Linked DNA regions of Homo sapiens. The protein of the gene in region 1 interacts with the protein of each later gene in a pairwise test. Each region holds a gene or a part of one and is shown in the gene's direction. Other genes may lie near its edges.

Region 1 (8,610 bases):
TCACCTCCTTAAAACTCTAGATTCCCTATTTCCTACAGTAAAATGTCTAGAATGGCACACAAGTTCCTCCATGAACAAGCACTTTTCTGTCTAGCTTTTGCCTTTCCCTTTCCATACTTAAAAAAAAAAAATTCTCTTGCCTTTTAGCTACTTGCTTTTCATTGAACATACCAAGCAACTTCAAACTGGTAGTATGCCTCCTCTTTCTACTTTGCACTTGCAATTCCTTCTACACAGAATACTTGCACCCTCTTGTTGCTTGCCAAACTTATTTATTCTCCTATTACAGGCCAACGTGTTCTTCTTGCCCACTTCCCAGAAAGGCCAAACATTGAGAATGCAGGAGTTGCAGCAGAGAAAGAGTTTAATGGAGGCAAGGCAGTTGAGTGGAAGGATGGGAAATATTTCTAAAATCCGCCTCCCTGACAGCTTGGAAGTTGTGGTTTTCAAGGATAATTTTGTGGGCAGGTTGGTAGGGAATGGGCGCTGCTGATTGGTTGGGGATGAATTTATAGGTGTTTCCAAACTGTCTTCCTGTGCTGAGTCAGTTGTCTAGGTGAGAGTCATAGGACTAGTAGAGTCAGTTTCTTGGTATGAGGCATGTATCTGGGTGGCATCAGGAGGTTTGCCAGAATGCAGAAGCCTGGAAAATATCTCAAGACCAATCTTAGGTTTTACAATAGTGATGTTATCTAAAGGAGCAATTGGTGAAGTTACAAATCTTGTGACCTCTGGCTACATGACTTCTGAATAGTAAGAAATTATAGAAAAGCAAGGAACAGTAGCTGGTTATTGCTTACCTATGCCTATATTTTAGCAGATTTTAGGTCCCTCCCATAGTCCTAACCTTGCGGCCTTCTATTAGTCTTACAAGGCTGTTTTAGTCCCTAGAGGGGGTCAGTTTTGGAAGGGACTATTACCATCCTTGCTTCAAAGTTAAACTATAAATTTCTCCCATAGTTAGCTTGCCTATGCCCAGGTATGAGCAAGGGCAGTTAGCTTTGTGAGGTTAGAAGCAATATGGAGTCAGTTAGGTTAGATTTCTCTCACTGTTATAATTTTTGCAAAGGTGGATTCACTTCCAGACCCAGTGTAGGTGTCTTTTCTGTGATGCCTTCCTTCCCTACTCAAAGAGGGTTGAGTCGAGTCAGGTGCGGTGGCATATGTGTGTAGTCCCAGCTATTGAAGAGGCTGAGGTCAGAGGATTGCTTGAGGCCAAGAGTTCAAGGCCAGCCTGAGCAACATAGCGAGACCTTGTCTCTAAAAAAGTATAAATAAATACAAATTTAAAATCTATGCAGATATTCAGAGCTTTCCCCTCCACACTGTGAAATCAAGAAAAAAAGAAAAAGAGGTTGATTGTTCATTCTTTTTGTCACCATTTTATGTAGTATACATCTCTCCTATTGTACTTGCCTCATTCGGTTGAAATTATTTGTTTATAGATCTGTCACTCTTACTAAAATGTGAACTGTTGGAGGAATTCATGCTTATGTTGTTCACAGTATTGCCTAGATCATATTAGGCACTCAAATGTTTGCGGAATGAATACAAAATAAGAAAGAATGCGCTAAGTGGTCTGAGAGAATACAAAGTAATAGGGGGCAAATTGTACAATTGAGTCCCTGCTTCTCAGTCAGAGTCAGAAAAGTTGTCATGAAGAAAATGGAATAGAATTTCAATAGTTAGAATTCTATGACCTGTGCAATGGCATAGGGAGGTAGAAAGTGACATTTGCTCAATACTGTTTTTGGTTTTTGCCTGTCTTACATTATGTTATCAAACTTCCCAGGAATGCTAAGGGCAATGAATGAACTCCTGTTCCCACTCCTCCTGCCGGGATTGCAGGCTGGGGCTCTTTCAAATTAGGTGGTCAATGAAGGCCTCTCTGTGGAAAGAACTTTTATATTGAGACCTGCATAATATAATACAAAGTGCAGTGATCTGGAGGAGTCCAGGCCACGCTAACAACAAGATCAAATACCCTGAGGCAGAAAAGAGATTGGTATATTTTAGGAACTTATGGTTCAATGTAATAAAATAATAGAAACTGGGTGGTGGGATGGTGCAGGGGTGGCTGCAGTAGGGAAAATATGGTGCAAAATACCATGAAATGTGGTTAGGGAGGTAGGCAGAGGCCAGACCACACGTATACGTACAGCAGTGTTTCTCAAACTGTACCTGATGACTCATTACTCAAATTTGTGGTATGTAGCCAGCATTAAAAAGATGACATAAAATAGCAACTTAACATATTCACTACATGTTGTAAGGGTAACGTTCATGAACTTTTGTTTAATTGTATATGTATTGGATGTGTACTGGATTCTGATGTAAAATATATTTCTTACTGTGAGTCCTGATCCACAAAGTTCAAGACACAGGGTACTTTGAATAATATATACTTTATTTGTTTTATCTTATTATTTTATTTTTATTTATTTATTTTTTTTGAGACAGGATATTGCCCTGTCACCCAGCAGGAATGTAGTGGTGAGATCATGGCTCACTGCAGCCTCAACCTCCCAAGTTCAAGTGATCCTCCAGCCTCAGCCTTCCGAGCAGCTAGGATAATAGGTGTGTGCCATGATGCCCAGCTAATTTTTTTTTTTTTTCAGAGACAGGGTCTCACTATGCTGCCCAGCCTGGTCTTGGACCCCTGGGCTCAAGTGATCCTCCCACCTTGGCCTCTCAAAGTGTTGGGATTATGTTTATGTTAGCCACCACGTTCAGCTAATATATAGTTTAAAAGGCAAAATAGTTGAAATCTCAAGGCCTGCAGATATTCTTATTCCTCTTTTGATCTAGTGAAAATGTTCTTGTTGTATGGCAGATACAGCTTTGAATTAACGAAAGCCTAAAATTGGCTAGAGTAAAATTTTCAAGTTTCTTTGTGCATCCAGATCACTCTCCTCCATATTTGCCATCAATCATTTATGAGAAAGAACAGGCCTAAGAAACAGATGTCCCTTCTCTGTGTTCAGTCTAGCCACTGTTGTATGTATTGCAGCAAAGGATTATGGCCTCTCAATAAGCAGCTGAAGATGGAGGTTGTTTGCTCTGTTGGTGAGGCTTCCTGACCACTGCAGTTTATCTAATCAGCTTCTGTCTTCATCTAGTTTGTTATAGTTGAGGCTTCCAAATTCTGGAATCACCTTTATATTGTGAAGCAGAGATAGGGAACCATAGTTTAGCATGTTTCTCATACACCTCATTTAAGATGAAGCGTATGCTGGACTCATCAATTTCTTTTACATATTATAAAGAGGACAGAGAAGGTAATTCTAAGATATATTTGACAAAGATATTAATATTATGTATCTTCTAAAATATAGCATTTATTAGAATATCATTACTCCAGATGAACTGTTAGTGTAATAAAGGACTTTAAAGATTATTAGCTATGTTCCATAAGAACTAATCTAAACCTTTGAAGTAAAATGTCTCAAAGTTGTTTGTTTGTTTATGTATTTATTTATTTTTGAGACACAGTCTCACTCTATCACCCTGGCTGGAGTGCAGTGGTGTGATCTCGGGTCACTGCAACCTCTGCCTCCTGGGTTCAAGCGATTCTCCTGCCTCCACCTTGTGAGTAACTTGGATTACAGGCATGTGCCACCATGCCTGGCTAATTTTTGTGTTTTTAGTGGAGACAGGGTTTCACCATGTTGGCCAGGCTGGTCTCGAGCTCCTGACCTCAAGTGATCCACTTGCCTCGGCTTCCCCAAGTGCTGGGATTACAGGCATGAGTCAAAGTTGTTTTTAACAGAGTTTTCAAAGACAGTTTCATAATTACTGAAGAACAAAATTTTATTCCATGAAATGAAATGCTTTTCAGTTTCCAACTTTATGACGTTTCTCCTAATAGCTTTTCTGGTTTTGTTTTTAGCACCTGCCTTTTTTTTTTTTTAGACAGAGTTTTGTTCTGTCGACCCGGCTGTGGAGTGCAGTGGCGCGATTTCCACTCACTGCAACCTCTGCCTCCTGGGTTCAAGCAATTCTTGTGCCCCAGCCTCCCGAGTAGCTGGGACTACTGGCGCATGCCACCACGCCTGGCTAACTTTTGTATTTTTAGTAGAGACGGGGTTTCGCCATTTTGGCCAGGCTAGTCTCAAACTCCTGATCTCAGGTCATCCGCCTGCCTCGGCCTTCCAAACTGCTGGGATTATAGGCATGAAGCTTGGCACCCAGACAGCATCTGCTTTTTAGTCATCCAGAATTCCTTTTGTTACTTGAATTGCTGATTTGGAAGAATTGCAGTTCCAAAGATCCACAGGATTTTATTTACAAAAAGTGAATCAGAAAGCACAGGGCATAAATTGCAGATATGAAACTCTTAAAAGTTTATTTTCCTATATATTGTATTACAAATGCAGTTTAGAGCCTGTTATATTCTTGTTTAGTAGGAAACAGTGGTATTTGGAGAACGGAATAGTAAGTGGTTAATATAATGCCATAATTTTTTTCATGTAGCTTTTTATTTATTTTTGCTTTCCTTTTTCTGCCTTTTTATTCCCAATTCTTTCTCATTCACCAGTTATTCTTCTATTCGAGAAAGTATTTATTGAGTACTTTCCATATACTGGTAACTGGTGGGTATACATTGATTAATAAGATAGCACACAGTGGCCCCTAACTCATGGAATTTATGGAGAAAAACAGATATTGGAAAATAAATTACAAGTATAAGTTGGATTACAAAAGAAAAATGACAAGGTGAGGTGGAAGTTAGTAATAAAATAGAGTGATCTGAACTAGCCTGGGGTGGTGAGGGAAAGTCTCTTTGATGATAAAACTCTTTAATTGTTTTTTTCCTTAGTTTGAGAGAAAAACAGTTTACATGAATAAATAAACGAATGATGACCTCATATGATGATAAGTACTATGAGGAAAATTAAACTAAGTAATGCAATATTGGTTGGTTCCAAGAGCAAGTAGCCTTGAGTAGGACAATCAGGGACGGTCCTCATGAGGATGTGACTTTTAAGCTGAGATGTCAATGATAGAAAGCAGCTTGCCAGGTGAAACCTAGGAGAAGAGCATTCCAGGCAGAGTCAATAGTGAGCACAGAGGTGCATTAGAGGAACAGGAGGGAGATAGTGTGGCTGGGGCCTAGGGAATGAGAGGACAGCTGGAGGAGAAGAGATCTGAGAGGCAGGAAGGAGCCAGGAATACTGAGACTTATGGAACTTGGGAGGGATTTTGGATTTTATTCTAAATGCAGTAGTATTATACATCTTATATATTTTACCTATTCCATCAAAATATTTTATTTTCCTTGGATTTGCCTTAAACTTTTGCCATATTAATTTGGTCTCTTGGTGCTTATTTTTATCTTATCTGTAAAATTTATGATCTTATAAGCTTTGGGAAATATTTTTCTGAGCTTCTTTTGTCTTTGAACTTCAGAGACTCCTAATTTCATCCCTTATAGTTGCCATTTCATAATTTATTTTCCCATTTCTGGACTTATTTTTTGTTTCTATAATATCTACTCTAAGGTGTGGCGAGCAGAGCTACATATTCCAGATGGGTATGCATTATAGTTTCAACATGGGAGTTATGTTTGCTGCTGTGATCTTCACCTAGTACCTTTCTTGATGCTGCTATAGCATATGATTGAAGTATCTTACTTTCCAGAAGTATCTCCAGCATTCCCAATGAACTTTGTATTCACATTTTTTTCAAAAACTGCCTAAACTTCTTCACTTCCAAAGTTGTCAATATTTAAAACTTTCTGTTAATTAGATGTGAGAAACTGTAGCTATTAAAATGTACTGCTTAATTCACATTTATTTTCTGATACTGGACACTTTGCCTTAATAAGTTGCTGTTGTTCTCTCTCCTGACTCATCTTATGTGCTGTGCCTTCTTCATATTTCTATACTCTTTAAAATGTATCTTCATATGCACACATAATGGCTCTAGAGCTCTCTGATAGATGTAAATTCAACTTTTATCCTTTGTTTTCCATAGTTTCAATATTTACATGATACATATATATGCTATATATGTTTTATATATGTTTATAAAGATATTTAACTTATTCTGTTGTAGAAATATAGGAAAATTACTTAGTCATTTTTAGAAATGAGAAAATATAAAAGTAAAAGTAATAAAATTACATTTATCTATAATAACACTGCCTGTATACAATCGCTATTAATATTTTTGTGTAATATCCTGGTCACATATATACTCATACATATATACACACACACACAGAGATACATATCCTTTAAAATATGATTCTATTATATTCATTGTTTAGAAATCTGTTTTATCCCACTTAATATATCTTTTGCATTTTTCCAGATCAGTTTTAAGAACTACAGCCAGCCCTGGGTAGCCATGGGTTCTGCATCCAGATTCAACCAATTGAGGATTGAAAATATTTGAAAAAAAAAAATAACAATACAATGATAAAAAATACAAATAAAAACAAAGCACTATAACAAGTATTTACATAGCATTTGCATTGTATTACGTGTTGTAAGTAATTTAGAGATGAATTAAAATATACTGGAGGATATGCATAGGTTATATGCAAATGCTATATCATTGTATGTAAGGGACTTGAGCGTCTAAGGATTCTGGTATCTGTAGGAGTCCTGGAACCAATCCCCTGCAAATACTGAGGGACAGCTCTACGTTTTATTCTTTCATTTACTCTGATTTAACCAATCCATTTATTAATTTGTTCTGTTAACACAATACTAACATATTTTTGCGAACACATTTTTATAGACATCCATAATTATTTCCTTACAATAAATTAAAAAGGAAATAACTAGGTGCGAGAGGTCATGTGCATTTTTAGGCTTTCAATATACATTGCCAGACTACTCCCAAAATAGTTTTGCCAGTGAATACTCTGCTAGCAGTATACCATGGTGCCTGTTTCTTCTAAACTCTAAACTGGTATTTCTATACATTACATACATATGTCTAACAATAGATTTGAACTTTTAATAAAACTGTCACCTGCTTTGCTCAGAATATTGAGAGAAATATAAATTACTGTATGTTCTATAGATGAAAGGCACTGTTAATACTTACCTACAATATTTCTTTGTAATTATTGTTTTACATCTATTATAAATTGTTAAAATTCAAGGTTTATTGTCTGACTGTAGTGAAGAATATTAAGTTGGCCTTTTTTTAACTATTATTTGTAGACAGATTTTCCAGTCCTCTCTTGTGTACTTATTTTCAAGATGTAGCTTGTTGAAGTACAAACAAACTGATGTAGAGCTAGAAATCTAAAATTTCAGTCTTTATTCCAGTCCTGGCTTAAGCACTTATGAGCTGTGTGTTATGTAATCTTTTTGGATAGTTATTTTCTCATCCATAAAATCAAAATAATACTTTCTGTTTAGATTACCTTAAAGCATTTTTTGTGAAGATCAAATAAGTTAATATGAAAGTAATTTATAAACTGTAATATACATATGAAATGTGTTATTTTCATATTAACCAGATTGCTGCCTAATGAGAAGATAGTTGAGGAAAATGGAAGAGATTAAAATATCAACCTTCAAAAATAAATATTTGAGGTTAATGGTGTTATGCAATTTTGTGGCTATTGAAAAATTTACTTTTATATATTAAATTCCCTCTTCCTAAATTTCTCTTATAGATTCATTTTCCTAATGGAAATAAGAAAAAGCTGGTAAAAGGGAGGGAAATGGCAGAGATTGGTCTTGAGACCAGTTTCAATAATGGTCATATACTTTTGTGGATAGGGGCAGCTAAACATGTGTGATATGTATTTAGCAGGTATTAGGTGTGAGATCCCTGAATATCTACTCAATTTAAATGGATTAGCTGGGAACATTTACTTTTATTGCTGGTCATGTGAGATTTTATTATTCAGTAATTTGACTGTGAAAGTACAATGAGACCGTTCAGACCCAGTCTGTTTCTTGCCACTTAGACTCAGAAATTCGGCTCTGGAAAAACTGAAAATCCCTTCATCTAGTGGCAAGTACAGTTTTATCATTTATGTTAAACCATATTGCCTTTTAGGTACCTTATTGGATTTTACTGCATGCACTGAGATCTCTAAAAGGTGAATATCTGTCTATCTTAGATATCTGAATATTTTTCATAATTAAAAATGTTCAAGTTTTTATGCAAAGAATGAATGGCTTCTATAATATTATGATCACTTTTTCTAGCATTTCCACATAAAAATTAGTATTGGCCTGATGATTTTATCTTGTCTCCCAATACCCTTAACACCTAGGTTGTGGCATGCATTATTAGAACACTTCTAGAATCAAACTTGACATAATAAGCATTTATATTCAGATATAGAGCAGAGGCTCTTGAACTCATCTTTCTGCCCACTTTTGGGTTCTTGCAACATGCTATATATATGAGATACAAAGATGAACAAGACTAGATTTCTTTTTTAAAAAGCTCACAGTCTTGGAGGAAGAAAAAAGAGAAGAAGAGAAATACATGATACACTGTAACATTGTAATACTAACTTAGAGAAATTCAATTTCTTCATTTGTAAAATGAGGATAATAATAATAATAATAATACTAGTTCCCTTATAGGGATATTATTATAATTAAATGATAAACTGTTTAGCCCAATGCT
Region 2 (8,610 bases), on another chromosome or scaffold:
CTTTCCAGGCCCGAAATGCAGAAAAGGCCATGTAAGTATCAACTTGTTTTTGGCTGTAAATTTTTTGTAACTTAAAAACCACCATGTAACTCTTTGTGTATTTCCTCTTTTTGGTATCTGAGCCTTTTGAGAAGCTGTTTCTTTCTTTACATATGTTATGTTCTTACATATGCAAAAACATTCCTGTTTTTGCCCATTTGTTTTCTCCATTTATGTGTTTTCTCACAGTTTCCAGAACTTAAACACTGGATGAACATTTGTTCACCTGTGGTTGGTGCAGGGGTTGTGAGAGTGACAGCCAGGGAACACACCATGATGTTAGTCTTTTAACACCTGGATGTATTGCTTATCACAGTGGTCTGATAAGTAGAGTTTCCCACAGTCCTTATGTGTAGTGTAAGTAAAATAGATTCTTGGGTGTTCAGGAATACAAATTGCCTCATAATTCCTACTCCTGAGAACATGGAAATCCCTAACTATTCTGTGGTTTCTTAATTACAATATTTGTATATGAATGACATTAAATATGGTCATAAGCAGATCTACCCCATACAGGAACATGGGTAATGAGAAGTCTGTATGAGCAGGATCTAATGGAGTCTTTTATCTTTTATATCGCTGGTAGGACGGCCTTAGCAAGATTTCGCCAGGCTCAGCTGGAAGAGGGAAAAGTGAAGGTTGGTGTAAATCTTCCTCATGAATTGTAAAGTATCAAGAATAAATGCAGGCTGGGTGCAGTGGCTCATGCCTGTAATCCCAATACTTGGGGAGGCTGAGGTGGGTGGATCACTTGAGTCTAGGAGTTTGAGACCAGTCTGGGCAACATGGCAAAATCCCTTCTTTACAAAAAATACAAAGATTAGCCTAGCCAGGCATGGTGGCGCCTGCCTGTAGTCCCAGCTACTGGGGAGGCTGAGGCAGGAGAATCACTTGAATGCAGGAGTCTTACACTGCAGGGAGCCATGATCATGCCACTGCACTCCAGCCTGGGTGACACAGTGAGAACCTGTCAAAAAAAAAAAAAAAAGTAGGGTGCAGTGACTCACGCCTGTAATCCCAGCACTTTGAGAGGCTGAGGGGGGTGGATCACTTGAGGACAGGAGTTTGAGGCCAGCCTGGCTAACATGGTGAAACCCCATCTCTACTAAAAATACAAAAATTAGCTGGGCATGGTGGCAGGCACCTGTAATCCCAGCTACTTGAGGCTGAGGCAGAAGAATCACTTGAGCCCTGGAGACGGAGGTTGCAGTGCACCGAGAGCGCGCTGCTGCACTCCAGGTCAACAGACTTCAAACTTCAGAATTTCCTATTTCTTATCTGTACCTGCTGACGCTCTTGAGAGTCTGTACACTTGAATTCCAATACCTCCCCATAGCTGAGGCAGGGTGATGGATCTGGCTGCTTGTTTTTCAGTTTCTTCTGTATTATGATGACTGGGCCCGGCCCTTTTTTTTTTTTTTTTTTTTTTGAGATGGACGCTCTGTCGCTCAGGCTGGAGTGCAGTGGCGTGATCTTGGCTCACTGTAACCTCCAACTCCCTGGTTCAAGCAATTCCCCTGCCTCAGCCTCCTGAGTAGCTGGAATTACAGGCACATATCACCACACCCAGCTAATTTTTTTGTATTTTTAGTAGAGATGGGGTTTCACCATGTTGGCCAGACTGGTCTCAAACTCCAGGCCTCAGGCAATCTGCCTGCCTTGACCTCCCAAAGTGGGAATTACAGAGATGAACCGCCGTGCCCAGCCTGATGACTGGGTCCTTTATTACTCCAGCTCTAATATTGAATAGGGACTGGAGTATGATGTGGAGAACAGCTGTAAGCTGAAACCGGTAAATTATTTCATTTCTTAGAGACTCACCCAAATTAGAGATAATATATACCATTCTTTGGATTTTTTTTTTAATTTTATATACGCACATGTATATGAATACACCCATATTTATGTATGTTTGTTTTAAACACTGATAGACATTGTTTCTTAAGGTACTATAAATATGCCATGAAATAGCTATAACCTAGTTTGGCTGTCTCTCTATTGCAGGACAGTTAAGTTCTTTCCAATATTAAATACAATGCAATCAATGTTTTTCCTAAGGAGAGATTGTAGAATGAGGTTTAAGGCTTGATGAGGATCATCTGGAATGAAAACTTCAAATGTTTTTAGGCCATTAGATGATTTAGGCTTAAGGCCTGAATCAGTTCTGAATGTTGTTTGAAACTTGTAAATAGTATAATGGAAATGTGTTATTTTTTTCTCCTTAGGAACGAAGACCCTTTCTGGCCTCAGAATGTACTGAACTGCCTAAAGCTGAGAAGTGGAGACGACAGGTATGTTCTGGGTAAATCTGATTTCAGTAGAAGTAACAAGTCTCTCATTTCTTCTTATTATCTAAATGACTGTTAGACCAAAAGTCTAAGTATTTTTAAATACTAATTTTGAATTATAGTTTTTCTGTGCTTTCTAACATATTCAAAAATTATTAAAATGTATTACTTTTTTTTAATAGATCATTGGAGAGATCTCTAAAAAAGTGGCTCAGATTCAGAATGGTAAGCAAACTTGTTCCTTTAAAGTGCTTGATTCTCAAATCCACAATTAGACTTGAGGACTTCAATACTCCTTTCAAAATAATCAATAGAGCAAGTAGATAGTAAATCAGTAAGGACATAGAAGAGCCAATCAATACGATCAGTCAGTTTGATGTAGTTGAAAGTTGTAGAATACTCTGTCTCACAACACTGTACCTAACAATAAAGAATACGTCATTTTTTTTTTTTTTTTTTGAGACAGAGTCTCACTCTGTCACCCAGGCTGGAGTGCAGTGGTGCGATCTCGGCTCACTGCAAGCTCAGCCTCCTGGGTTCACGCCATTCTCCTGCCTCAGCCTCCCGAATAGCTGGGACTACAGGTGCCCACAACCACGCCCGGCTAATTTTTTTGTACTTTCAGTAGAGACAGGGTTTCACCATGTTAGCCAGGATGGTCTTGATCTCCTGACCTTGCAATTCGCCCGCCTCAGCCTCCCAAAGTGCTGGGATTATAGGTATGAGCCACTATGCCCGGCCTAATACATGGTCTTTTTTAAGAGCACGTGGAACATTCACCAAAATAAAACATATTCTGGGCTGCAGAACAAATGTTAGCAAATTTAAAATATTTGAGGCCGGGCGCAGTAGCTCACGCCTGTAATCCCAGCACTTTGGGAGGCCGAGGAGGGAGGATCACCTAAGGTCTGGGGTTTGAGACCAGCCTGACCAACATGGAGAAACCCCACCTCTACTGAAAATACAAAATTGGCTGGACGTGGTAGCGCATGCTTGTAATCCCAGCTACTTGGGAGGCTGAGGCAGGAGAATCGCTTGAACCTAACGGGCGGAGGTTACAGTGAGCCAAGATCACACTATTGCATTCCAGCTTCAGCAACAAGAGTGAAACTCCATCTCAAAAAAAAAAAAAATTGAAATTACACAGAGTATTTTCTCTGATTATAACAACAGATTCATATCTGAAAAATTCCTAAATATTTGGAAATTAAACAACATATTTGTAAATAATTCATGTGTCTGAGAGGAAACAGCAAAGAAATTAGAAGATATTTTGAATTTAATTAGAGTGAAAACGTAATGTCAAAATTTAGGGGATGAAAAAATTTATGGGATATAGTGCTTAGATAAAAATGTATAGCACTGGCCTGGTGCGGTGGCTCACACCTGTAATCCCAGCACTTTGGGAGGCCGAGGCGGGTGGATCACGAGGTTAGGAGATAAGAGACTATCCTGGCCAACATGGTGAAACCCTGTCTCTACTAAAAATACAAATATTAGCTGGGTGTGGTGTCATGTGCCTGTAATCCCAGCTACTCAGGAGGCTGAAGCAGGAGAATCGCTTGAACCCGGGAGGCGGAGGTTGTAGTGAGCCAAGATCGTGCCACTGCACTCCAGGACTCCATCTCAAAACAAACAAACAAACAAACAAACAAAAAATACATATATAGCACTGAAATAATAGAAAATTATGAAAGTTTTCAAATCAGTGATCTAAGCTTCTACCCTGTGAAATTAGAAAAGAAGAGCAAATTAAACCCAAAGCAAGCAGAAGGAAGGAAATAGTAAAGATAAGAAATCAATAGCATTGAAAACAAGATGAATAGAGAAAACAGACCAACAGCTGGTTCTTTGAAAAGATCAATAAAATTGCTGGGCGTGGTGGCTCACGCCTGTAATCCCAGCACTTTGGGAGGCCGAGGCGGGCGGATGACGAGGTCAGGAGATCGAGACCATCCTGGCTAACACGGTGAAACCCCGTCTTTACTAAAAATACAAAAAATTAGCTGGATGTGGTGGCAGGCGCCTGTAATCCCAGCTACTTGGGAGGCTGAGGCAGGAGAATGGCATGAACCCAAGAGGTGGAGCTTGCAGTGAGCTGAGATCGCGCCACTGCACTCCAGCCTGGGAGACAGAGCGAGACTCTGTCTCAAAAAAAAAAAAAAGATCAATAAAATTGATAAACTTCTAGTCAGACTGACCAAGAAAAAATATACACAAATTAAGAATATTAGGAACCAAATTGGGAATATTACTATAGAATCTATATACATTAAAAGGATAATAAGGAAATATTACAGACAATGTTATGCCCATAAATTTGACAACTTAGATGAAATAGGTCAATTCCTTACAAGACACAAACTGCCAAAGCTCACTTAAGAGAAGTGGTCCTTTTTTTTTTTTTTTTTTTTTTTTGAGATGGAGTCTTGCTCTGTCACCCAGGCTAGAGTGCAGTGGCGAGTTCTCGGCTCACTGCACTGGGTTCAAGCAATTTCTCCCTGGGTTCACCTCCCTGGGTTCAAGCAATTTCTCCTGCCTCAGCCTCCCGAGTAGCTGGGATTACAGGCACCCTCCATCATACCTGGCTAATTTTTTTTTTTTTTTTTTTTTTTGAGACAGAGTCTCGCTCTGTCACCCAGGCTGGAGTGCAGTGGCGCCATCTCAGCTCACTGCAGGCTCCGCCCCCCGGGGTTCACGCCATTCTCCTGCCTCAGCCTCCCGCGTAGCTGGGACTACAGGCGCCCACCCCCTCGCCTGGCTGATCTTTTGTATTTTTAGTAGAGATGGGGTTTCACCGTGTTAGCCAGGATGGTCTCGATCTCCTGACCTCGTGATCCGCCCGCCTCGGCCTCCCAAAGTGCTGGGATTACAGGCGTGAGCCATGGCGCCCAGCCAAATTTTTGTAATTTTTTAGTAGAGACAGGGTTTCACCATGTTGAACAGGCTGGTCTTCAATTCCTGACCTCAGGGGATCCACCCTCCTCGGCCTTCCAAAGTGCTAGGATTACAGGTGTAAGCCACAGTGCCTGGCCGAGAAATAGTTCATTTTGTTTTGTTTTGTTTTGTTTTGAGACAGAGTCTTGCTCTGTTGCCCACACTGGAGTGCAGTGGCATGATCTTGGCTCACCGCAGCCTCTGCCTCCCGGGTTCAAGCGAATCTCCTGCCTCAGCCTCCTGAGTAGCTGGGCCTACAGGCGCCCACCACCATGCCCAGCTAATTTTTTTTTGTATTTTTAGTAGAGACGGGGTTTCACCATGTTAGCCAGGATGGTCTCGATCTCCTGACCTCATGACCTGCCCACCTCACCCTCCCGTAGTGCTGGGATTACAGGCTTGAGCCACTGCGCCCAGCCCTGAAGAAATTTTTGATTGTTACAACTGGAAGGGTGCTACTGGCACATAGTGGGTAGAGGCCAGGGATGTGCTAAGCCTCCTACAAATAATTATCCTAAATAAACTACAGTGTCAATAATTCTACTGTTTAGAGACACAGTTCAAAAAGAAATGGTAAACCTGAGTAGTCCTATATCTGTTAAAGAAATTGGGGCTGTGCACCGTGGCTCACGCCTGTAACTGCAGCACTTTGGGAAGTGGAGGTGGGTGGATCACCTGAGGTTAGGAGTTCAAGACCAGGCTGGCCAACATGGTGAAACCCTGTCTCTATGAAAAATACAAAAATTAGCCAGGCATGGTGACGCATGCGTGTAATCCTAGCTACTTGGGAGGCTGAGGCAGGAGAATCACTTTAACCCAGGAGGCAGAGGTTGCAGTGAGCCAAGATTGGGCCACTGCACTCCAGCCTGGGTGACAGAGCGACAGTCCATCTCAAAAAAAAAAAAAAAAAAGATGGAAAGAAATTGAATTCATTTCTAAATACCTTTCTAAAAGAAAATTCCAGACCCAGATGGCTTCACTGGTCAGTTCTACTAAATATTTAAGGAAGAAATAATACCAACTCCACATAGTTTCCTCAAGAAAATGGAAGAAGAGGGAACACTTTGTAACTCATTTTGTGAATTTTAGTATCAGCATTACCCTGATGCTAAAATCAGAAAAAGATATTATGAGAAATAACTACTGACAATATTTCCTATGAATATAGACAAAAATCTTTAATGAAACATTAGCATATCAAACCTAGCAATGTATGGCCGGGCGCGGTGGCTCACGCCTGTAATTCCAGCACTTTGGGAGGCCAAGGTGGGTGGATCGTGAGATCAGGAGATCGAAACCATCCTGGCTAACACACGGTGAAACCCCGTCTCTACTAAAAATACAAAAAAATTAGCCGGGCGTGGTGGCAGGTGCCTGTAGTCCCAGCTTCCTGGGAGGCTGAGGCAGGCGAATCGCTGGAACCCGGGAGGCGGAGCTTGCAGTGAGCCGAGATTGCACCACTGCACTCCAGCCTGGGCGACAGAGCGAGACTCCGTCTCAAAAAAAAAAACAAAACCTAGCAATGTATAAAAAGGATAATACATCACAACTAAGGAGGATTTATTCTGGAAAAACATAGTAGATTCAGCATTCAAAAATAAGTTAATTCACTGTGTCATTCCAAAGAAGAAAAACTGTATGATCTAAGTAGATGCAGAAAAAGTATTTGACAAAATTAGACGTTTATTCATGATAAGAACTCAGCAAACTGGGAATAAAAGGGAACTTTTTACCCTGATAAAGCACTTCTTTTTTTTTTCTGAGACGGAGTTTTGCTCTTGTCACCCATGCTGGAGTGCAGTGGTGCAATTTCAGCTCAATGCAACCTCCGCCTCTCAGGTTCAAGTGATTCTCCTGCCTCAGCCTCCCGAGTAGCTGGGATTACAGGTGCCAGCCACCACGCCTAGCTAATTTTTGTATTTTCAGTAGAGACAGGGTTTTACCATGTTGGCAAGGCTGGTCTCGAATTCCCAACCTCAGGTGATCCACCCACCTTGGCCTCCCTAAGAGCTGGGATTACAGGCATGAGCCACCACACCCGGCCCTGATAAAGTACTTATAAGAAACCCATAGCCAATAAACTATTTAATGGTGAAGGATTGAATGCTTTCCTCTTAAGATCAGGAACGAGGCAAAGACATCCACTCTCACCACTATATTCAGCGTGATGCTGGAAATCCTAGCCAGTGCGGTAAAGTAAAAAAAGGAAATAAAAGGCATAAAGATTAGAAAATAATAAGTAAAACTGTCTTTATTGTAACATAGAAAATCCTATATAATTTTCTTTTTTTTGAGATGGAGTCTCGCTCTGTCACCCAGGCTGAAGTACAGTGGTGCAGTCTCGGCTCACTGCAACCTCTGTCCCCTGGGTTCAAGCGATTCTCCTGCCTCAGCCTCCTGAGTAGCTGGGACTACAGGCATGTGCCACCATGCCCGGCCAATTTTTGTATTTTTACTAGAGACAGAGTTTCGCCATGTTGGCCAGCCTGGTCTCGAACTCCCAACCTCAGGTGATCCACCCGCCTCTGCCTCCCAAAGTACTGGGATTACAGGCATGAGCCACCATGCCCACCTAAAATCCTACATAATTTTCTATGTAGAAAATCCCAAGGAACCTACAGAAAGACTTCTAAAATGGATAAGTGAATTTATCAAGATCACAGAAAAGAAGTTCAATATACAGAATTATATATATACACACACACCCCATATATATTCATATATATATTTTTATATATTTATATATATTTTTATATATTTATATATTTTATATATTTATATATATATATATTTTTTTTTGAGACAGAGTCTTCCTCTGTCACCCACGCTGGAGTGCAGTGGCCCAGTCTCGGCTCACTGCAACCTCTGCCTCCCAGGTTCAAGCTATTCTGCCTCAGCCTCTCGAGTAGCTGGGACTACAGGCATCCACCACCACACCTGGCTGATTTTTGTATTTTTAGTAGAGACAGAGTTTCACCATGTTGGCTAGGCTGGTCTGGAACTTCTGGGCTCAAGTGATATCTGCCTGCTTCAGCCTCCCAAAGTACTGGGATTACAGGTGTGAGCCACCATGCTCAGCTTCAAAATTATATTTTTATATACTAACATTGAACAGCTGGAAATACAACATTTTTTTAAAGTGCTATTTACAAAAGCACCAAAACACAAGAAATAACTTAGGTATAAATCTTTTTAATTTTAATTTTATTTATTTATTTTTTTGAGATGGAGTCTTGCTCTGGCGTCCAGGCTGGAGTGCAGCTCACTGCAAGCTCCGCCCCCCAGGTTCATGCCATTCTCCTGCCTCAGCCTCCCGAGTAGCTGGGACTACAGGCGCCCACCACCA
Region 3 (5,102 bases), on another chromosome or scaffold:
TTTGAGCTCTTGCTTTGCATTTCAATCGCAAACCCACTCAGATACGGGAACTGTTTAAATTCATATATGGACAAATAGGTTTCAGTGATGCAATACTTTAAAATTCTGCCATCTCCTTGTGTTTTTCTTTCTAGGTGAGTGGACTGCCAGCTCCTGATGTGTCATGGTATCTAAATGGAAGAACAGTTCAATCAGATGATTTGCACAAAATGATAGTGTCTGAGAAGGGTCTTCATTCACTCATCTTTGAAGTAGTCAGAGCTTCAGATGCAGGGGCTTATGCATGTGTTGCCAAGAATAGAGCAGGAGAAGCCACCTTCACTGTGCAGCTGGATGTCCTTGGTAAGCCTCCAAAGAGACCCTTGAGAATTCCTTAAAATCCAGAAGTATTGAAAAAAAGAAAGTATTTTAAAAGAAAAGCCCAGCAGACTTCATATTTAAGGTTAATGTCTATACAACCTATTGGAATGTCCATTTTTATCTACAAACCACAGGAAAAAATATATATATATACACACACATACATACATATATAGATATGTGAAGGAAAGTCAGTGAAACTAGAATGACAGATCTATCACCAAAGCTTTTCTGGAAAGAAAATAAATCATACAATTTTAGACAAACCAAATAATGAAGCATAAGCATTTCTAGACGTAACTATAGAGTCTCAAAATGAAAATCTTAGTCTAATCATTTCTCTGGTCTTTGTTTCTCCAAAATGAGGATAATAAAAATAACCAATCTGACTCACAGTATTACAGAATTATCATAATCTGTCAAACGTTAAATACATAGTTTAAAAGTGAAGAGTAGGCTGGGTATAGTGACTCAGGCCTGTAATCCCAACACTTTAAGAGGCGCCAAGGTGGAAGGATCACTTGAGCCAAGGAGTTTGAGACCAGCCAGGGTAACAAATAGCAAGATCTTCTTTGTCTCTACAAAAAATAAAAAAATTAGCTGGGCATAGTGGTGCACACCTATAGTCCCAGCTACTAGAGAGGCTAAGGCAGGAGGATAACTTGAGCCTGGAGTTTGAGGTTTCAGTGAGCTATGATTGCACCACTGTACTCCGGCCTGGGTGACACAGTCAGACCTTGTTTAAAAAAATTTCTTAAAAAATCAAGAGTAAATATCAACTTTTAGCCTTAGACTATGTCCTTTTTACTAGGAAACTAATGTCTAATTATAACCAAAACAGGCCTACTTGCTTTAGAAAACAGGTATGGCTACATTTATGTCTCAAATCTGTCTTAAGTAGAGCAGTTCTTATAAAACTGGTGTCTGGTTTTTAAATTTTACACTTTAAGTGCTTTAAATATACAAGTTGAGTATCCCTAATCCAAAAATCTGAAATCTTTAAGATGCTCCAAAATCGACATGACACACAAAGGAAGTGTTCATTAGAGCATTCTGGATTTTCAGGTTAAGAATGCTCAACAAGTATAACGCTAATATTCTAAAATAAAAAAAAAATCAGAAATCCAAAACACTTCTGGTCCCAAGCATTTCAGATAATGGATACTCAACCCATACCATATTTTTAATACTTTAAGCCATTGTATATTGCATAAGAGATATTTTGCTATAATTCACTATTTATTATACAGAAGTTTGATCAGGTTAAAGGATAAACTATTTTCTTGAGTTTATATTCTACCCAGATCAATACAAAATCTTTAAGATTATTCAATAATATACCAAAGGGCCTCAATCTCAGGGGAAAAACTAGTGGGCTGGAAATTTTCAAAAACACATACAATTTAAGTGATTAAAGTTTAGACAAATCCTATTTGTACCAATGGCTTCAGAAATACTACAATAGTAGAGCTGAAAGAGATCTTGGCTGCCATCCGTTTAATCTCATTTCTCCTTCAGAAAAACCAGGGTTATGGTACTGAACTATCGTTTCCTGTCTCCCCTCAGGTAGCTGAAAATAAGGTCATAATAATTACTGATATTCCCACATTCCTTCAGAGTTTACAAAGTATCTCTTTGTTTATTATCTCATTTGTTCCTTACAATTATTTTGTGTGGTAGACACAACAGTCACTACTACCGGGATTTTTTTTTTATAACAATAGATAAAACTGAGACTCAGAGAAACTAAACAAAATTTTACCAATTTGGCATGGCTCATGGAGCCAATAGGTAATTTGAACCCAAGCTGTCTGATACTCTTTCCATCACTCATGCTGCCTCCCTGTAGATGAGATGATAAAGAATATAACTTAAATTTGGGCCAGGCACGGTGGCTCATGACTGTAATCCCAACACTTTAGGAGGCTGAGGTGGGCAGATCACTTGAGGCCAGGAGTTAGAGATCAGCCTGGCTAACATGGCAAAACTCTGTGTCCACTAAAAAAAATACAAAAATTAGTTGGGTGTGGTGCACACCTGTAATCCCAGCTACTCAGGAGGCTGTGGCAGGAGACTTCCTTGAACCTGGGAGGCGGAGGTTGCAGTGAACCAAGATCACGCCACTGCGCTCCAGCCTGGGCAAAAGAGCGAGACTCTGTCTCAAAAAAAAAAAAAAAAAAAAAAAAAAAAAAGAATATGACTTTAGTTTGAATGAAATATAATTATCTGATTATCAATTCAATGCATCATTACATTAGAGTTTAGAATTCTGAATGGTATAACAAAATAGTACTGCATGTCTTTTTTACTGAGTTTCTTTCTGTTGCTGTTGCTTTTTAACATTTTAATATCAACATACAAATTTCATAATACCTTGGTTTGATTTAATACCTTTTTTATAATATTTCAAATACTTGAATTTTTGTATTAATATATAGCAAAAGAACATAAAAGAGCACCAATGTTTATCTACAAACCACAGAGCAAAAAAGTTTTAGAGGGAGATTCAGTGAAACTAGAATGCCAGATCTCGGCTATACCTCCACCAAAGCTTTTCTGGAAAAGAAATAATGAAATGGTACAATTCAACACTGACCGAATAAGGTAGGATATGTATTTCTAGACTTACTATAGTTTATTTGGGTGAATCCAGTTATACTTTTTAACATGCATTATAAATGGCATGCATTTATCTCAATTTGTCTAGTTTTTAAAACACTAAAGAATAATATAATAAAATATATATTAGATAAAAATGTAAGAAAACTTCAGTAAGCCAGATTCCACTAATCAGAAATGTAAGGCATAAAGTAGACTAGGATTTATCTTTTTATCAACGATGATGAAAGATGGCCCAAGGAAATAAATGACATAAACAAGATTAAAGGGGGATGTTTTCTTTTCTTTTCTTTCTTTACAAAAAGCTTCAGCCTTTATTAAACAAAGGAGGAGGTAGGAGACAGATAACGGAACAGGTCAGGACCCCTCCATTCCCCTATACATACGCATAAATACAAACACAGACACACCCGAGTGAATGACAGGGACCATCAGGGGACAGATTGAAGAGCAGAGGGAGACAGCACCCAAGGGGGGATGTTTAATTCAAGAAAACCAATAGCTATTTGGCAATAAATAGATACAGCTTTGGAATTTTCAAATGTTTTTTTCTTCCTAGTCTGACTGTTGGTCAGAGACATCCACTTCACAGAAATAATTCCTGTACTTTCATTTCTTAAAAATTTTTATTTCAGCTTATATCAAGATAACACTGGAAGAGTTACTTTACTGATAAAAGATGTAAACAAGAAAGATGCTGGGTGGTATACTGTGTCAGCAGTTAATGAAGCTGGAGTGACTACATGTAACACAAGATTAGACGTTACGGGTATGTCATACTATTAACCAAAGTATTATAAGGGATTTAACTAGGAAGATTTAATAAGAAATGAAAATCCCAGCAGAGTATAAAATTTGAGATATTTTCCCCATATATAATCAGTTTTGGTTCTTTTTTCTTTTCCTGTCTGATAATAAATACCTAGTGTGACCAATTTGGTTAGAACAGGTTTTCTGAATCAACTTTTATGTGATCTATTTCAGCACGTCCAAACCAAACTCTTCCAGCTCCTAAGCAGTTACGGGTTCGACCAACATTCAGCAAATATTTAGCACTTAATGGGAAAGGTTTGAATGTAAAACAAGCTTTTAACCCAGAAGGAGAATTTCAGCGTTTGGCAGCTCAATCTGGACTCTATGAAAGTGAAGAACTTTAATAACTTTACCAACATTGGAAAACAGCCAACTACACCATTAGTAATATATTTGATTACATTTTTTTGAAATTAATCCATAGCTGTATTAACAGATTATGGTTTTAATTAGGTAATATAGTTAATATATATTTATAATATTATTTATCCTTTGACTCTTGCACATTCTATGTACCCCTCCGATTTGTGAAGCCTACAGGAAATCTGGGTATATGGATTTGTAACTGCAGAAGACTATCTTAAAATACAGGATTTTAACATTTAAGTCATGCACATTTAACAATTACAGGTTATAAATTAGTATCAACTTTTTAAACACATCTAATGCTTGTAATAACGTTTACTGGTACTGCTTTCTAAATACTGTTTTACCCGTTTTCTCTTGTAGGAATACTAACATGGTATAGATTATCTGAGTGTTCCACAGTTGTATGTCAAAAGAAAATAAAATTCAAATATTTAAAACGGACTGTCTCCTCTTCACAAAAGTCTAGATCTGTAAAATAAAACTCCACTCAGCAAAACCTATGAATAACAAGTTCCAAAAGAGCAATGTTATATTCTAGAACAGTGTGAAGCTCACTTACAGCTCAGCCAATTCCTCTAGAAACTAAGCTAGACTTGCCATGGTTTGCACTTCAAAGGCAATCACAAGAACTTAAATCATGACTGAATCTACTGAATTTGTGATTTTGTTTTAACCAAACAGGTTTCTAATTCTTCAGGATTTTTCAGTCTGTTATGCTCAAAGGAATAAGAATAGTCTCTAGAGATTACCTGCTTAATTCTCATAGTTAATGTAAATTTGACAGCCCGGTAGTCCCAGCTGCTGGGAGAGGTTGAGCTGGGGATCCCTTAAGATCAGGAGTTTGAGGCCAGACTGGGAAATATAGCGAGACTCCATCTCTAAAAAAAAAAAAATTATGTAAATTTGATTACCTATATATGGGTGTTTTTCCTCTAATAATT
Region 4 (8,556 bases), on another chromosome or scaffold:
TCCCCCCTCCCCAAACTAGCCACTGCCCCTTTAGTAACCCAGACAAAGGCTTGGTCTATTCATGCACACGGCTACCGGCAGCCTGAACCCCTCCCAGCTTCTCATGTGAAGGCTGCTATCCTCCAGGAGCACTTCCTTCACAAGGATTAAGGGCATCAACTCTGGGGACAAGTTGGCTAGGTTTGAATCCTGGCTCCCACACTTCCCAGCTACGTTCTCTGCAAGCCCCTTCATGACATAACTTCTTACCTCCCTCTCTTCCCTAGCTTGGGTCCCCTCTGCTCCTGCCACACTGGCCTCTGATGATGCCAAACTCATTCCCACCTCAGGCCTTGGATGCTCCCTGGGATTTTCTCCCCTGGGGTCTATGCATGGCTGGCAGTGCAGCCTCAGGGCAAAGCCTCCCTTCACCTTGCTGCTCTCCTGACTCTCTCTATTCCATTACTTTTAGTCTTCCTACAACAGCGTCTAAAAATAAGTTCTCTTATTATCTGATTGCCCCCACTAAACTTAAACTTCATGGAACAAACACCTTGTCAGCTCCATCATCCTGTATCCCTCCTAGGCCCAGCAAACAGGATTGTTATTATACGTGCAAACTGCTTAACTTCTCTGAACTTGTTATTTTCTTGGTTACAGTGAAGACAGTAACAGGACTTCCTTGTGAGATTACTGGGAGACTATAAGGCACTAGTTCATATGAAGGGCTGACAGCTGTGCCTGGCATGAAACAAGCCCTCCGTAAACAGTGGCCAAAATCATCATCACTGATGTGGCCAAATTCCCAAAGCCATGCTTTCTTCCTCTTATGTTGCTCATTGATATTGTGGGAAGAGAGAGTAGCAGAATGGGACATAAGCTGCCTGATATGGCACTGTCCGTATCAGGGCACCAGGGAGGCCCAGCGGGAGCCAGGCCCTTTCCTCCCAGGAAGTGTGACACCCTCCCATTCAACCGTACCTGGCCGGCGCCGCTTGCGCGCCAGGTGCGGCAGCAGGTCGTGGCGGGCCAGCACGCGCAGGAGTTGCCCCAGCAGCCGCAGGTTGCTCTCGTCGCACTGCCCGCGGCGCTCCAGCTCCAGCAGGAGCTCTAGGCCGCTGCGGGCCCGGGCTAAGCCTCCGGCGGCGCCAGGAGCCTCATCCAGCAGAAAGGCCAGGAGCTCCAGCTCGCACTCGGTCAGTTGCCCGCCCACCACCTCGAACATACGGTGAAGCGACAGCATCCCGTAGTAGTCCAGGCACTCATCCTCCTCCCAGCACGGGGCCGGGGTCGACCCGGATAGCGCCATTCCCGGGGGAGGGAGGCGGAACAAGCTCAGAACCCGGCCTAGAACCCACACAGCGGGGAGGGGGCAGTGGTCAGCGACGCGGAGGCCCGAACCCCACACCGCCAGCGCGTCTCCCCCGCCCAATCGCGCCGGGCAGGGCCGCTCCCGCACCCCCAACCGCCTCGGCCTCCCCCTCCCCCGGGAGGGAATGGTCCCGCCCGAGGTCCCCTAAGAACAGGTCGGGACGCCGGAGCCCGCTCGGCTTCTGCCCCCACCACCGTGCTACGTTCGGAGCTCGCCTCCGGACCTGACCAAACGATGCGGCCCAAACAAGCCTCGGGGCCCACCCCGGGGCTCCCTGCTGACTGCCCCTGACTCTGGGTAGGACTGCCCAGACGAGCCCCTTTTCTCCGTCCAGCGGTACCGTCTGATGAGTCCCCCGGCTCTACGCAAGTGGTACCTCCCGAAAGTGACCCTCTGCCCCCTACACAGAGGAGCGACCCAGGCAGCCCCTTTGCTCCACACAGGTGGTACCGTCCGAACCCGACCCCCTCGCCCTGCAAGGGCGGCCCCGCCCGCTCCCCAGAGCCCAGGTGGTCCTGTCTACCCGCCACCAGTCACCATTAGGCCTCTCTGGATCCTCACCAGATTCTGGCGTCCGATGACTCCTGGGCGACGGCCGCAGCCACTTGTTTTGGATCTTTCTGGCACCTTCTCTATTATTACGCCTGCGTCACCTCGCCCCTCCTCCTTCCCCCAACTCGCGCAGGTGCGACCGCCACGCCCCTTCGGCGCATGCGCAGAACGAGGCCTCCAAGCCCCGCCCTTCCTGGGCCGCTTGACCTGCCCCCAACCGAAGCATCTTGGTTCGCGAGTGCTGCGCTTGCGCAGAGCGAGAGCACGCCGCCTCTTGGGCTGTATCTGGTACCCGGTTCCAGGTCCCTACTTCCTGCCCGTGACTCAAGCCACCGGGGCCATGTAGCGCCACGTCACGAGTAGTTGTAACTACTCATCTCATAAACTACAGCCCCCTCCTGATCACGAGCTAGACGCCCACATCACCACTGCCCCTAGTTGCCCGTGGCAAAGTAACACAATCACTACTTTCCCGTCTCCCAGTAAACTCCCAGGCCTTATATGATCTGGTCCTGGGCACTCCTCCATTAGATTGTCCCTCACTTCTAGTGACAACCAGGGATCTACATCTCAACTGTGCTCTCTCGTGATCCCAAATGGAAATCCCGCCCCCCCACCACCACCCCCGCAGTCTATAAGTTCCTTCCCCTGATCAAAACCAGAATTCCCTCATCTCACGTTCAGGACGGATACCTCCTTCCAAGCGGCAACAGAACCCTCCATTCCGACTGTGTACATCTCGATGGCGTCCATCACGACCCCCATCACAGTCAGATGTCTCCACCCAGAGCCAAAACGGCCCCTCCGTAACCCCTTCCAATCTCTGCCCTCCAGGGTCGCCCAGATACCCGCTCCCTAACTTGCAACAACTAGAGAGGGTCTGTCAGGGAGTCTAGGCTGTGGTGTATGCGTGTCCCCTTACCGCGGGGCCTTGGGTGTGACGGTCGCCACGCCCCCCACTTAGGTGACTCAAGGTCAGGACCTGCATGTACTTGAGACAAGTCCCCTCCCTGGACCTCTTCCCACCCCCGCAATTAACTCCTCTTGGGAGTCGGGAGATCTGGGTCCTGCCTAGCACTGGCCCAGTACTGGCTCTGCCTGAGCTGTAGCAGTGAATTCAAAAGAATCGGCTGCGCGCGGTAGCTCACGTCTGTAATCCCAGCACTTTGAGAAGCCGAGGTGGGCGGATCACACGAGGCCAGGAGTTCGAGACCAGCCTGGCCAACATGATGAAACCCTGTCTGTTCTTAGCCGGATGTGGTGGCACGCGCCTGAAATCCCAACTACTTGGGAGGCTGAGACAAGAGAATCTCTTGAACCAGGGAGCAGTAAGCAGAGATAGTGCCACTGCACTCCAGCCTGGGCCACAGGGCGAGACTTTGTCTCAAGAAACAAACAAACGCCAGGTGCGGTGGCTCACGCCTGCATTCCCAGCACTTTGGGAGGCCGAGGCGGGCGGATCACCTGAGGTCGGGAGTTCGAGACCAGTCTGACCAACATGGAGAAACCCCATCTCTACTAAAAATACAAAATTAGCCGGGCGTGCTGACGCATGCCTGTAATCCCAGCTACTCGGGAGGCTGACGCAGGAGAATCGCTTGAACCCTGGAGGCGGAGGTTGCCGTGAGCCGAGATTGCGCCATTGCACTCCAGTCCGGGCAACAATAGCAAAACTCTGTCTCAAACAAACAAACAAGACCGGACGCGGTGGTTCACGCCTGTAATCCCAGCACTTTGGGAGGCCGAGACGGGTGGATCACCTGAGATCAGGAGTTCGAGAGCAGCCTGACCAATATGGCAAAACCCCGTCTCTACTAAAAAATACAAACATTAGCCGGGCGTGGTGGTGGACACCTGTAATCCCAACTACTCGGGAGGCTAAGGCAGGAGAATCGGTTGAACCCGGGAGGCGGAGGTTGCAGTGAGCCAAGATCGTGCCACTGCACTCCAGTCTGGGCGACAGAGTGAGACTCCGTCTCAAACAAACAAACAAACCCTCCAAGAAATCCCTTCCCCTCTCTGGGCCTCAGTTTCCCTACTTGTGAAACAAATGGATGGCAATGGTAAGCTACGGAAGCATAGTCCTGGGCTAAACTCACAAGGGGGCCTGGTAAGTGACTATCATTAAATCAAACGAAGAGTAGGGAGAATAGGAAAGCAATTTAACAAACTGTGAAGGATTCTGTCTTGCTAAGTGGGTTGTAGTGGGCGCCTACAGTGTATGAGCGCTGTGCATGTGTGATATCATCCAATCCCCTAAACAATCTTTGAGGTGGCTGTGACTCAAGCTCACTTCACACCAGTAAAACAGAGGCCCGGAGAGGAGAATAACTCCAAGTGTGTCGGGCTCTAAAGCTGTACTCTCAGAAATGCTCCGTCTCTTCAGCTTTGAAATGACATCTCTGTCAAGGTCTCCCGCCGCCCAGTTCACTCCATGGGCCCAACGCTCACCAAAGGTTGCCCGAGTTTCTCTACAGAACTTGCCGACGCTTAGCCCGGGAGCGACCCAGAGAAATGCGCAGGCGCATCTCCTCGCCCTGAGCCCCGCCCACAGGGCGAAGATGTGTGCGTGGATAACTCCCAGAGCCCCGCCTGTGTGGCAACACGCAGGCGCAAGGTCGCGTGCCCTGCGCTGCAGGCTCTGATTGGTCGCCACGGGTAAGGGCACCGCCCAATGGGAGGTGTGGATAGTGAGGGGTCCCACACGCCTGGAGCCGAGGGTCTGTGTCAAGAGCGGCAGGGGCTGCAGGAGATAAGAGAAACGGGTGAGGGCGCCGCGCGGGGCTGGACTGGGAAGAGAACGCTGGGCGGACGGAGGGGGCGGAAGGAAAACTAAGGGGTCTGCAGGGATCGAAGAGCCTTGGGGCCTGCGCTAGGGCGGGAGCGGCGCGGGCTGGAAGGAGAGCACTCCTTCCTGTGTGCCCTGGGGCTCCTTTAGTGTGCGGGAGCCTACGCTGGAACTCGCCCACCACCCACTGCTGCGAGCTCTCACCCTGCCGAGGAGCTCAGTCTGGTAGGAGACAAGCGTTGTAAAGCGGGAAAGTTGAATTTCCAGGGCCCTAGTGGGTTCCTTCCTGGAAAGACTTACTGATATACTGTGTGAAAAACCCCCATTCTTTCCCTAAGTAGTTCACAATTCAAGAGTGGGAGAAAGAATCGTAGACGAGGAAAGGGCAAATTTCAAGTCTCCCGGGCCACCTCGTAGACATTTATTGGGTACCTGCTTTGTGCAAGCTTTGCAGCAGGCACTGGGCCTCGCCCTAGGGGAGTTCTCTGTTGGAAATGGGGCTGTAATCAAGGAAAAATGGAACTCTCGGGCCCCTGGTTGCCTACTTCCAGGAAGGTCCTTTGTGGAATGGCTGTTGTGTGCAGGGGCCTGGCAACTCAAAAATTAGGAAGGGGATTGGAATAGTAGATAAGGAAAGTTTAGCTCCAGCTCCTTTAGTGAATAATTTACTCAAGGAGTATGTATTGGGCATTAACTGAAAGCAGGGCCCTGTACTGGGCTGTGTGTTTTGGGAATTCACAGTCTAATGGGGAAGTTGGTCTGGTAGAAATGGACTGTGCATAGGGACAGTTAAACTCAGGGTCGGCCAGGCAGTGGCTTACACCTCTAATTCCAGCGCTTTGGGAGGCCTGGGTGGGAGGATTGCTTGAGCTCAGTAGTTCGAGACCAGCCTGGGCAACATAGGGAGACCTCTCTACAAATAATTTAAAAATTAGCCAGGGGCTAGGTGTGGTGGCTCACACCTGTAATCCCAGCACTTTGGGAGACCATGGTGGGTGGATTTCTTGAGGTCAGGAGTTGAAGACCAGCCTGGGCAACATGATGAAACCCCATCTCTACTAAAAATACAAAAATTATCCAGGCGTGGTGGTGAATGCCTGTAGTTCCAGCTACTCAGGTGACCGAGGCGGGAGAATCGCTTGGACCCAAGAGGCGGAGGTTGCAGTGAGCCGAGATCGTGCCACTGCACTCCAGCCTGGGCAAAAAGAGAGAAACTCTGTCTCAAAAAAAGTAAAATAAAATAAATAAAAATAAAAATTTGCCAGGCATGATGGCAGATACCTGTGGTCCCAGCTACTCAAGAGGCTGAGGCAGGAGGATCACCTGAGTCCAGGAGGTGGAGGCCTCAGTGAGCCAAGATCGCACCACTGCACTGCAGCCTGGGCAACAGAGTGAGACCCTGTCTCAAAAGGAGGAAAAAAAAAAAAAAACCTCTCAAGGTCTCACTTCCCAAGGGAGGCTCACTGCAGCCTCCACCTCCTGGGCTCAAGTGATCAAACCACCTTAGCCTCCCAAAGTGCTAGGATTGCAGATGTGAGCCACCACACCTGGCCTGGGAGCATTTCTCAGTCACTAAATATGTACTGTGTGCTAGACATTGTTCTTGGCACTGGACGTGCTTCAGTGATGTGCAGGCTAAACTGCTACCGTCTAGGTGCTTAATATGAGCAACTTTTTTTTTTTTTTTTCCTCCTTGAGACAGAGTCTCACTCTGTCTCCAGGCTGGAGTGCAGTGGCGCAATCTCAGCTCACTGCAACCTCCGCCTCCCGGTTTCAAGCCATTCTCCTGCCTCAGCCTCCCAAGTAGCTGGGATTACAGGCGTGCACCACCACGCCCAGCTAATTTTTGTATTTTTTTTAGTAGAGACGGGGTTTCATCATGTTGGCCAGCATGGTCTCGATCTCTTGACCTTGTGATCGCCTGCCTTGGCCCCTAGAGTGCTGGGATTACAGGCGTGAGCCACTGCGCCCGGCAATATGAGCAACTTCTATATGCAAGGCTGTAAACCAGACTCCACCTGCCCTCTGGCACTAATAGATTAGGTGAAAAAGAGGTAAAGAAGGTGGGTTTGAATTCATAAAATTAGCTGCTAGGCCTGGGAGGGAGGCAGTCATTTGTTGAGTGTACTCTGAGTCCCTGCTGTGTGAAGGGGCCTGGGTGGGGTTGAGCCCACATACGTAGAAGGGAAGATGGGGCATATAGAGGGAAGTTTGAAAGTTAAAATTCCTGTCCCTGCTCAGAGGTTTTGTTGCTGACTGGAGCCTCCACAATGAATCAGACCCACAAACTCTCAGTCCAGTGAGGAACAGTGAGATGCCACCCCAAACTCATGATATTTGCCATGATAGAGGTGGCACAGGATACCATAGGAACCCTGAGGATGTAGAGATGTCAGAGAAGGCTTCACAAAAGGTGCTGGGTAGGAGTTTGTCAGACAAAAAGAGGAGAGAAGTTTCTTGGCAAAGGGAATAGCAACATCAAAGACTTAGGGTCTAAAAACAATCTTTCTGGAGAACTACACAGGGTTACAGCTGACCTTTACAAGTACCAGGGACTTTGTGTCAGTACTACTTTTAGCCCCATTTTACAGGTAAGAAGACAACCTCAGAGGAAGTAAGTGGTAGAGCTCAGATTCAAGCCAAGGGCAGTCTGGTTCCAGGGCCTGTGTTTTTAAACACTTGGGTGTATCTGTGTGTGTATATGTAAGAGGCAGAGGAAAAGCATTGCACAAAGAGAAAGCTGCACGCAGGCAAAGGCTATGGTATTCTCAGAAAAGGTGTGCCTGGCCCTCTCGGTAAAGAGGCCAGGCTGGCTGGGCCGGGTGTGGTGGCTCACACCTGTAATCCCAGCACTTTGGGAGGCCGAGGCAGGCGGATCACGAGGGCAAGAGATCGAGACCATCTTGGCCAACATGGTGAAACCCCATCTCTACTAAAAATACAAAAATTGGCCGGGCGTGGTGGCTCATGCCTGTAATCCCAGCACTTTGGGACGCCCAGGCGGGCAGATCACGAGGTCAGGAGATTGAGATTGTCCTGGCTAACACGGTGAAACCCTGTCTCTACTAAAAATACAAAAAATTAGCCGGGCGTGGTTGCAGGCGCCTGTAGTCCCAGCTACTCGGGAGGCTGAGCCAGGAGAATGGCCTGAACCTGGGAGGCAGAGCTTGCAGTGAGCAGAGATTGCACCACTGCACTCCAGCCTGGGCGACAGAGCGAGCCTCCATCTCAACAATAACAACAAAAAAATACAAAAATTAGCTGGGCATGGTGGCGCACACTTGTAGTCCCAGCTACTCGGGAGGCTGAGACAGGAGAATCACTTGAACCTAGGAGGTGGAGGTTGTAGTGAGCCGAGATTGCGCCACTGTACTCTAGCCTGGCAACAGAGCAAGAGTCCATCTCAAAAAAAAAAAAAAAAAAAAAAAGAGGCCGGGCTGTTGGCCGGGGTGGTGGCTCACATCTGTAATCCCAGCACTTTGGGAGGCCAAGGCGGGTGGATCACCTGAGGTCAGGAGTTCAAGACCAGCCTGGCCAACATGGTGAAACCTTGTCTCTACTAAAATATATATATATATATATATATATATATACAAAAATTAGCCAGGCATGGTGGCACACCCCTGTAGTCCCGGCCACTCAGGAGGCTGAGGCACGAGAATAGCTTGAACCCAGGAGCGAGAGGTTGCAGTGAGCCAAGATTGTGCCACTGCACTCCAGCTTGGGTGACAGACCAAGTCTCTGTCTCAGAAGAAAAAAAAAAAAAAAAAAGAGGCTGGGCTGAGTGGTGTTTCTCTCCTGCAGGCTGCCGTGGGGTGTGTGTAGGCTTCAGAGACATGGGATCACGGAAGACTGAAGCAGAAAC

The links.
Region 2: the proteins of NME7 (region 1) and ISY1 interact in binary tests that used the Homo sapiens proteins (3 or more experiments, as listed by UniProt).
Region 3: the proteins of NME7 (region 1) and MYOT interact in binary tests that used the Homo sapiens proteins (3 or more experiments, as listed by UniProt).
Region 4: the proteins of NME7 (region 1) and ZNF526 interact in binary tests that used the Homo sapiens proteins (3 or more experiments, as listed by UniProt).

Annotation. Positions count from the first base shown.
Region 1 is NC_000001.11:169,357,081-169,365,690, reverse strand, and holds part of NME7 (nucleoside diphosphate kinase homolog 7), read left to right. Parts: intron 1-8,610. UniProt on the Homo sapiens protein: Possesses an intrinsic kinase activity. Displays 3'-5' exonuclease activity with a preference for single-stranded DNA. Does not seem to have nucleoside diphosphate kinase activity.
Region 2 is NC_000003.12:129,150,575-129,159,184, reverse strand, and holds part of ISY1 (pre-mRNA-splicing factor ISY1 homolog), read left to right. Parts: intron 1-8; coding exon 9-31; intron 32-625; coding exon 626-677; intron 678-2,264; coding exon 2,265-2,330; intron 2,331-2,509; coding exon 2,510-2,552; intron 2,553-8,610. Other genes in the region: ISY1-RAB43 protein, read left to right, coding at 9-31, 626-677, 2,265-2,330, 2,510-2,552. UniProt on the Homo sapiens protein: Component of the spliceosome C complex required for the selective processing of microRNAs during embryonic stem cell differentiation. Required for the biogenesis of all miRNAs from the pri-miR-17-92 primary transcript except miR-92a.
Region 3 is NC_000005.10:137,883,250-137,888,351, forward strand, and holds the end of MYOT (myotilin), read left to right. Parts: exon of another isoform or gene 1-134; coding exon 135-342; exon of another isoform or gene 343-372; intron 373-2,798; coding exon 2,799-2,964; intron 2,965-3,614; coding exon 3,615-3,748; intron 3,749-3,963; coding exon 3,964-4,136; 3' UTR 4,137-4,602; downstream 4,603-5,102. UniProt on the Homo sapiens protein: Component of a complex of multiple actin cross-linking proteins. Involved in the control of myofibril assembly and stability at the Z lines in muscle cells.
Region 4 is NC_000019.10:42,215,720-42,224,275, forward strand, and holds the start of ZNF526 (zinc finger protein 526), read left to right. Parts: upstream 1-4,592; 5' UTR 4,593-4,668; exon of another isoform or gene 4,669-4,916; intron 4,917-8,495; 5' UTR 8,496-8,556. Other genes in the region: DEDD2 (DNA-binding death effector domain-containing protein 2), read right to left, coding at 961-1,288. UniProt on the Homo sapiens protein: May be involved in transcriptional regulation.